2 linked regions of the Homo sapiens genome follow. The protein of the gene in region 2 interacts with the protein of the main gene of each other region in a biochemical or structural test. Each region holds a gene or a part of one and is shown on either strand. Other genes may lie near its edges.

The links. Proteins that work in one complex are often made in the same cells at the same time.
Region 1: the proteins of KIF13A (region 2) and ADAP1 form a complex in vitro, tested with the Homo sapiens proteins (one study listed by IntAct).

Annotation. Positions count from the first base shown.
Region 1 is NC_000007.14:952,812-956,556, reverse strand, and holds the start of ADAP1 (arf-GAP with dual PH domain-containing protein 1), read left to right. Parts: upstream 1-1,876; 5' UTR 1,877-2,079; coding exon 2,080-2,161; intron 2,162-3,745. UniProt on the Homo sapiens protein: GTPase-activating protein for the ADP ribosylation factor family. Binds phosphatidylinositol 3,4,5-trisphosphate (PtdInsP3) and inositol 1,3,4,5-tetrakisphosphate (InsP4). Regulates the incorporation of CD63 and CD9 into multivesicular bodies.
Region 2 is NC_000006.12:17,763,917-17,767,661, forward strand, and holds part of KIF13A (kinesin-like protein KIF13A), read right to left. Parts: intron 1,031-3,745; coding exon 194-1,030; 3' UTR 1-193. UniProt on the Homo sapiens protein: Plus end-directed microtubule-dependent motor protein involved in intracellular transport and regulating various processes such as mannose-6-phosphate receptor (M6PR) transport to the plasma membrane, endosomal sorting during melanosome biogenesis and cytokinesis.

The DNA of each region.
Region 1 (3,745 bases), on a different chromosome or scaffold from region 2:
GGCAGGAGAATCACCTGACCCCAGGAAGCAGAGGTTGCAGTGAGCTAAGATCGTGCCACTGCACTCCAGCCTGGGCGATAGACCAAAACCCTGTCTCAAAAAAAAAAAAAAAAAAAGGAAAAAAAGAAAAGAAAAGAAAAGAAAATAGAAAATACAAGTCAGGCTATTTCTCCTAATACCTAGTGCTGAGCTGCTGCTATTAATGTTCGTCTGTCTTTATTAGGCGACATTCTCCAAGCTCATGCTGTGTGGTGGATTCCGAGCCTGGCACAGGGACCCAGAGATGAAAATGCCACCTGTCCCCACCCCAAAGCCTCCCGTCTGAGGGAGGAGAAAGACCCATGTGAACGGTTACAGGGAAAGAGCACGTGATGCCACAGGGCACAGATCCCAGAGACACAGACCAAAACGGGCTGCCGCGTTCTGCTTCAGGTAGACAGAGCTTAAGCAGCTCCATGATTCCACGTCAGCTGGAGCAGGGGGACAGGTGCCTTTGGTGGCACTCTGGTCAGTGCAGCCTCAGTGGAGGCCATTCCACATCCCATACCATTGCCCCAGCGATGCCACTTTGAGAGCAAATCCACACAAAACTCTTGCAAAGATGAGGTTGTGTAGACCATGATTCTGATGCATTCAAAACGCTCTAAATGCCCCTATGCCAGTGACTGGGTGAACAAGTCATGGTTCAGTTGAACTTTTTTTGAGTTTGTTTGTTTGGTTTTTTTTTTTTTTTTTTTTTTTTGAAACGGAGTTTCACTCTTGTTGCCCAGGCTGGAGTGCAATGGCGCAATCTCGGCTCGCTGCAACCTCTGCCTGCCAGGTTCATGCGATTCTCCTGCCTCAGCCTCCCAAGTAGCTGGGATTGCAGGCATGCGCCACCACGCCTGGCTAATTTCTTTGTATTTAGTAGAGACGGGGTTTCACCATGTTGCCCAGGCTGGTCTCAAACTCCTGAGCTCAAGTGATCCACCCGCCAGGGTCTCCCAAAGTGCTGGGATTACAGCCGTTAGCCAAAACCCTGTCTCGATAAATGAATAAATAAATGAAAGGCTACAGGCCTCAGACGTTCGTTCTGGAAGGTGCTGAGGAATTTGTTAACAGTGGTTGCCTGGAAGGCAGTGGGGAGAGGCTTTCCTTTTTCAGTCTGGTATGTTCCAGTTTGTTTTCAGCCGGGTGTACTGCATTAACCCTGCAAGAAGAAAATGGAAAGAATTTGAAAAGATGCTGGGGTGTGCAGAGGAAGGGCACGCGAGTCTGGGAAGAGGTGACATCAAAACCAGGTTTTTTGTTACCTGTCAGCCCCCATGTGAAGTCCCGGCGGGGCCCCTCAGCCTGCCTGAGTGGGAGGGGTGCCCAGAGGGTCCCATCTGTGGGTGGTGGGCGGCTGGGTGGGTCTCAGGGGGAGGCTCCGTCTGGGCCCTGTGTGGCCTCAGTGCCCTGGGACGCTGGCGTTTGTCACCTGCTGGCCGTCCCTCCCAGGCAGGGATGGTGTGAGCGCCCTGGTCCTGGTCCGTAGCACAGGACACGCACACCTGCCTTCCACGAGCACCCCCATGCCCATGGTCTTGGGGGGCTCGGCAGGTGCCCTCTGCGCCCCCCACAGTAGGTGTGCAGGCTCCGTCCCACCGCGCGCGGCGGCACGAGGGTCCCACCCAGGCCGGCCAGGTTTTGGGGCGGCCTCGCGCCCAGGCAGGTGGGACGCTGCGCGCGGATGGGGGGCGGGCGGCGGGCGATTTCCCAGCGGGTCCCCGGGGCGCGCGGGCTGGGGGCGCCGGAGCGGCCGAGGGAGGAGGCCACACGCTCGCCTGCACCGCTGGGGGCCGCCCGCGGGCCTTGCCGGCCAGAGCGCAGCGTGCGCCCCGGGCCCCGCGCCGGCACTCGCTCAGCGACCGCGGCGGAGACACGAGCGGCGGCGGCGGAGCCCAGAGGGCGGCGGGAATGCGGAACCGGCGCGCGGGCTGAGGCCGCCCGGGATGGCGCAGGGGCGGCGGCGGCGGGCGGCCTGCGCGGGGCCCTAGCGAGCCGGGCTGACGCTCCCGGCCCCGGCCCCGGCATCGGCATCGCGGGCGCATCGCGGCCATGGCCAAGGAGCGGCGCAGGGCGGTCCTGGAGCTGCTGCAGCGGCCGGGGAACGCGCGCTGCGCGGACTGCGGCGCCCCGGGTAGGTGTGGGCCGGGTGGGCGCGGGGCCGGGTGGGTCCGGGGTGGGCGCGGGGTGCCGGGCGGGTCCTGGGTGGGCCCCGGGGACCGGGCGGGGGAGCGCGGACGCCGCGGGGGTGGCGGCGCTGAACACCGGGCCGGATCGGCGCTCGGATGGGGCCCGGGCCCGGCTGCACCTGCGGGGACCCGGACGTCTTCCCGGGCCGGGCGCAGCGGGGGGGCCCCCCCCAGGACCCCCGGAAACCCCCCTGCCGCCGCCTCCCCTCCCCCGCCGGGCTGCGTGTCTGACGGTCACCGCGGACCGCCCGCCGCGTTGCGAAAGCTCGGGCTCCGCACAGAAAGAGGAAATCGGGGCTGGCTGCAGGGAGGGAACGGGCCGCCAGCCGGAGGTCTCTGCTGGGCTGTGGGGTCCGCCGGCTCCGGGGCCACCTCGCGGTGACGTCATGCCTCACGCCCTTCCCGCACCGGGGGTCCCTGGGTGTGAGCGGCGCCCCTGCCCCCGGCTCCCTGCACCTGGCTGCTCCGGGGCGGGCGCCAGGACAGGTGAGGCCTGGGAGAGGTGGGGCCGGACGCAGGTCCTGGTCCACCCGCCGCCCGCCCGTTCGTTCTCCCGGCCGGGCATCCCTGACTCGGTTCCCAGGTCTGTGGGATTTCAAGGCACTGGAGTCCAAAGGCGCGGAGTCCCTCCCTTCCAGGCCACTGGTCCTGTCATTGGCTGTGAACGGGGCCCAGTGCCCAGACCAGCCCTGCCCTGCTCGGGAGCTGTCAGCCCCAGGCCGGCTGCGCTGTGGAGAGAGGGCCCCGCCGGAGCAGTCCCGCCACCCCAGGCACACCAGGAATCTGGGGGCCAATAGTCTAAGCCCCTCGGAACAAACCTAAACTCACCGGCGGTGACTGAGGCCCCCAGGGAGGGAGCGGGGGAAGACCTTGCATTTGCCTCCAAGGCCCTGGTTCAATATGCAGCCTCTGGACACCCCGGAAAAAGGGGTGTCCCTGATTCCCTCTGGGATGGAGGGGTCTCTGCCAGCCCCAGGTCGTGGTGGCTGCTGTCCAGCTGCAGCTTGGCTGGAAAGGCCACATCAGGAGCTGGGGTGTCCCAGAGGGGAGATAGCGACAGGCTTTTCTGGAAAGACAGGCAGGACCCACGGCCTTTCCATGGTCTCCTGAGACAGGACGGCCACAGGGCCCGTGCAATGGTGCGGTGGGGGTGGCCCCCTGGGCTGGCTCACCCCAGACTCTCTCCCCACAGACCTTTATTTCCTCCTGTTCAGGAACGCTCCCCAGGAAAGCCAGTGGGAAAGGGCCTGGCCTGGGGTTGCTGTGGCCCACGGGGAGGGGAGCTGGGCTTGCCTCTGAACCTCTGCTCCCTGGCCACACAGCCTGGGAGCAGCTTCTCTGGACTCAGGGCCCCTCTCCAGCCACCCTCTGGGCCTCCCAGCCTGGCAGGAGGAAGAGGGGACTTCCTTGGCCTGCTGGGTCCTTCAGTGGTCCTCCCCTCCCAGTGGGTGCAGGTGTGCCCGGCCCACCTGCTAAGCTTCCAGCCTGGCCCACCCCAGAGCTGTTCTCTGCCGTCCCTATGCCCCACG
Region 2 (3,745 bases):
TCCACTGGTCTTATAATTTCACAATTGCGTTCTAGTTCCCAAAACAGACTTGCTCTCCGACAGAGACAGCTGTGCAGGAAGTGAGCCTGCTTCTCTGTGGGCTCATCTTTGCTGTCACAAACAACTGGATGAATCTTTCCTACCAAGTTGTTGCGGTGAAGGGCCTCTGGGGTTGACATACAGTTAGACATACTCATTGACAGCACAGAACCCAAAAGGCTGCCTCTGGAATTATTACCTGGTCATTCTCTAACTTGGAATGCAGCTGGCTGGGGTGGTGGAGCCCATCGGAGACAGTCTTGCCGCCTGTTTTATTTGGTAGACTCCTCCTACTGGAAAGCTCTCCAGCAGAAGAATCTGTCAAACCATCAAAATCTTTTCCCTCTGACACTCCCATAAATTCTGTGAAAGAATGGTCTTCAAGGATGTTGGTGGTGTGTTCTACCGTCACCTCCCTGGGGCAGAATCCCCTGGCTGGCTGGCTAATTTTGCTGGGGCAGGCATCTAGTTCTGAACATGAGCCAGTCCTGCACAGTGATTTGGAGTTTTTCTCAGGGATGCTCTGGGATGATGGGCTCCCTTTGGCTAAGGCACTGTTTTCCTTGAGTGGCACCACAATTATCTTGTCCTTTACCAAGCCTTTTTCGACTTCTGTCAACTCTTTGTTTGAGGACGGCCTGAAATCATGCACAAGCGATGGTGTGGAGTGCTCGGTGGAGTCTGCATCCTTCGTCTGAATGGCCAGCTGGTCTGAGCTGTCACTAGAAGGGACCACCATGTCAGACAGGGTGGCATTGGAGGCACTGTGGGAAAAGTAGCCACTGGTAATACTGCTGGTGGTAGGGCTACGGGACACTTCTTTCTCCAAGACCCGTGAGTTTGACAGATCTACTTTAGAGGAAAACCATTCCCTGTTCTCCAAGCTGGCATTGTAAACACTGAAGTCAGCAAACTCCACAGGTACATAAGGCTGTGAACTTATTAGCTTCCTGTTAATAGCTTCCAGCTCATTTTCTTCCTCCTCAGAGTCCTATAGAAGTGAAGCAAAAGTCAGTCATTAGCTCCTTGTAGCAACTGTACTGTTGAGACAAGTTTTAAATACTTGGCTGTTAAAGGCATTCACATTCACATGGTGTTCAGTGTTTTCTTTTTGTCTTTCCAAATTTGGCCAGATCTTGTCACCTATTGTAGATATAGGTGTATCAGTATTCTCAGAGACCTGTGAATATAAACCCCTTATCATCTAATATGAAGGGGATTTAGTTCTTTTAGGCTCACTCAGTGCTAATTAGAAATCATTCCTTCCCTGGTTTAAGAGAAAGAATGGAACTGAAGTGCAGTGGACATTTTGTTAGTTATTCAAAATTAGCTTTTAGTTGTGATGTTTTCTCTTTTCTCATTAAATGAGCAGAGAAACAGGCAGAAGCAGAGAAGAGCCACTCCTTTTGTCTTTAGAATCTTCACCTTGGGAAGCAAAGTGCAGGCAGTTAAGGTAATTTTTAAAAAGTTTCTCAGCTATTTTATGGGGGAGAAGAGAGTAAAACAAAGAACCCAACTGCAAAAGGGCAAAAAACACAATTTCAACACTCATTCTTATATTATGCTACATATCGTAAGGCTATAAAATACTAACAATCTGACAATTACGGTCTTCTAGGATTTTTGAGAAGTATGAGTAGAGGGTTTGGCTAGAAGGTGAAGAAGGCATAGTGAAATTTAAATGAAAATCTCCTTTGTAAAACAGTTTTCAAGCCCCTGTTCACAAAAATTGGTAAATACATGCAAAAGTGGGTGTCACCAACTCCCCAGTCTCTCTCCAAATGAATGATTCTTTTATATTTGGTAGAAAAAATGTGGGTATTTTAAGTCCAAATAAAATAAGTGATAAACTCTCTAGCCATTTCTAATTAATCTCAGAAGCACCTAATGAAATCGCAAATATTCCTTTTAAAATATGTCTTTCATTCAACAAATACACACTGAACATCCACTACATGGCAGCCATTGTCCTAAGGACTTGGAAATAGCAATGGTGAGCACAAGAAGGCATGGTCCCTCCCTCAGAGAATTACAACTTTGCGTCCTTGCTCTTAGAACAATCCTGGATGCTGCATGGATGGATAAGAATTTCATTCACAGGTAAACTTAGACACCTCAAAAACAGTTAGCTTTCTTTCATTGGTCATCTGGTTTAAAGCATCTGTACAATTAGAACTACTAGGTGCATGTAAAGACCTGGAACCGAAGCATCAGCCTTACTCATTAAGTTTGCATTTTATTAATTTACTTATTTTATTTTTAAGATTTATTTATTTATTTATTTATTTATTTATTTATTTTGAGATGGAGTTTCACTCTTGTTGCCCAGGCTGGAGTGCAATGGTGTGATCTCGGCTCACCGCAACCTCCATCTCCCAGGTTCAAGCAATTCTCCTGCGTCAGCCTCCCGAGTAGCTGGGATTACAGGCATGCGCCAGCATGCCAGGCTAATTTTGTATTTTTATAGAGACAGGGTTTCTCCATGTTGGTCAGGCTTGTCTCAAACTGCCGACCTCAGGTGATCTGCCCGTCTCAGCCTCCCAAAGTGCTGCGATTACAGGCATGAGACACCGTGCCCGGCTAGGATTTATTTATTTTTATTTATTTATTTTTTTACAGACAGGGGTCCTGCTCTGTCACTCAGGTTGGTGTGCAGTGATGCAACTGTAGCTCACTGCAGCCTCAAACTCCTGGGCTCAAGCAATCCTCCAATCTCTGCCTCCTGAGTAGCTGGGATTACAAGTGTGAATCACTGTACCTGGCCCATAACATAAATTTGCTTTTTAATCGAGGTGGGGAGGGGGGATTTATCTTCAAGGCATGGCAAATACTTGTTCACAAATGAACATAAATTTCATCTGTTTAGATTAATAGTAATATTTTCTTTTGCATCTCAAGATTCTATATACCTCAAAAAAAGTTTAATACTCTCTTAAATGCTTCTCAGCTTTTAAAATAATTTAGTTTTTATAACTTAGTTGTAAAAATGTGACTGAAAATAAATGTGTAAAGGAATTGGTGATCCTAATTCTTTAGCTGTTAATCAAAGGTGAATATCAAATATCAGTGATAAAGTTCCTGAAATTGGCAAAACAAAATTTTTGGCAACACTAATCTCTTCTCATCTTTATCTGCATTCTAAATTAAGTAGCATTATCAAAAAAGTGGGGTGGAGCATTCTTTCCCAGGGTTGGGCAGAATGTTGGAGAAGGAACAAAGATTGAACAGAATTGTCTGAACCAGTAGCCTTTGCCTATATTTTCTAGATTCTCTACTTGTCATGTTTAGACTCAAAATTAATTTTTTTTTTTTTTTTGAGACGAAGTCTCACTCTTGTCGTCCAGGCTGGAGTGCAATGGCGCGATCTTGGATCACTGCAACCTCTGCCTCCCGAGTTCAAGTGATTCTCCTGCTTCAGCCTCCCAAGTAGCTGGGATTACAGGTGTCCGCCACCATGCCCGGCTAATTTTTGTATTTTTAGTAGAGACAGGATTTCACCATGTTGGCCAGGCTGGTCTCGAACTCCTGACCTCAGGCGATCTGCCCGTCTCGGGCTTCTAAAGTGCTGGGATTACAGGTGTGAGCCACCATGCCCGGCACAAAATTAAATTTCAAGTGTTTGTATCTCTTCTATTTCCTTTTGATTTAAGTTGGCAAACACAATTCTCCAAGTCCAAGCATACCTGATGCAATTAATTACTAAATT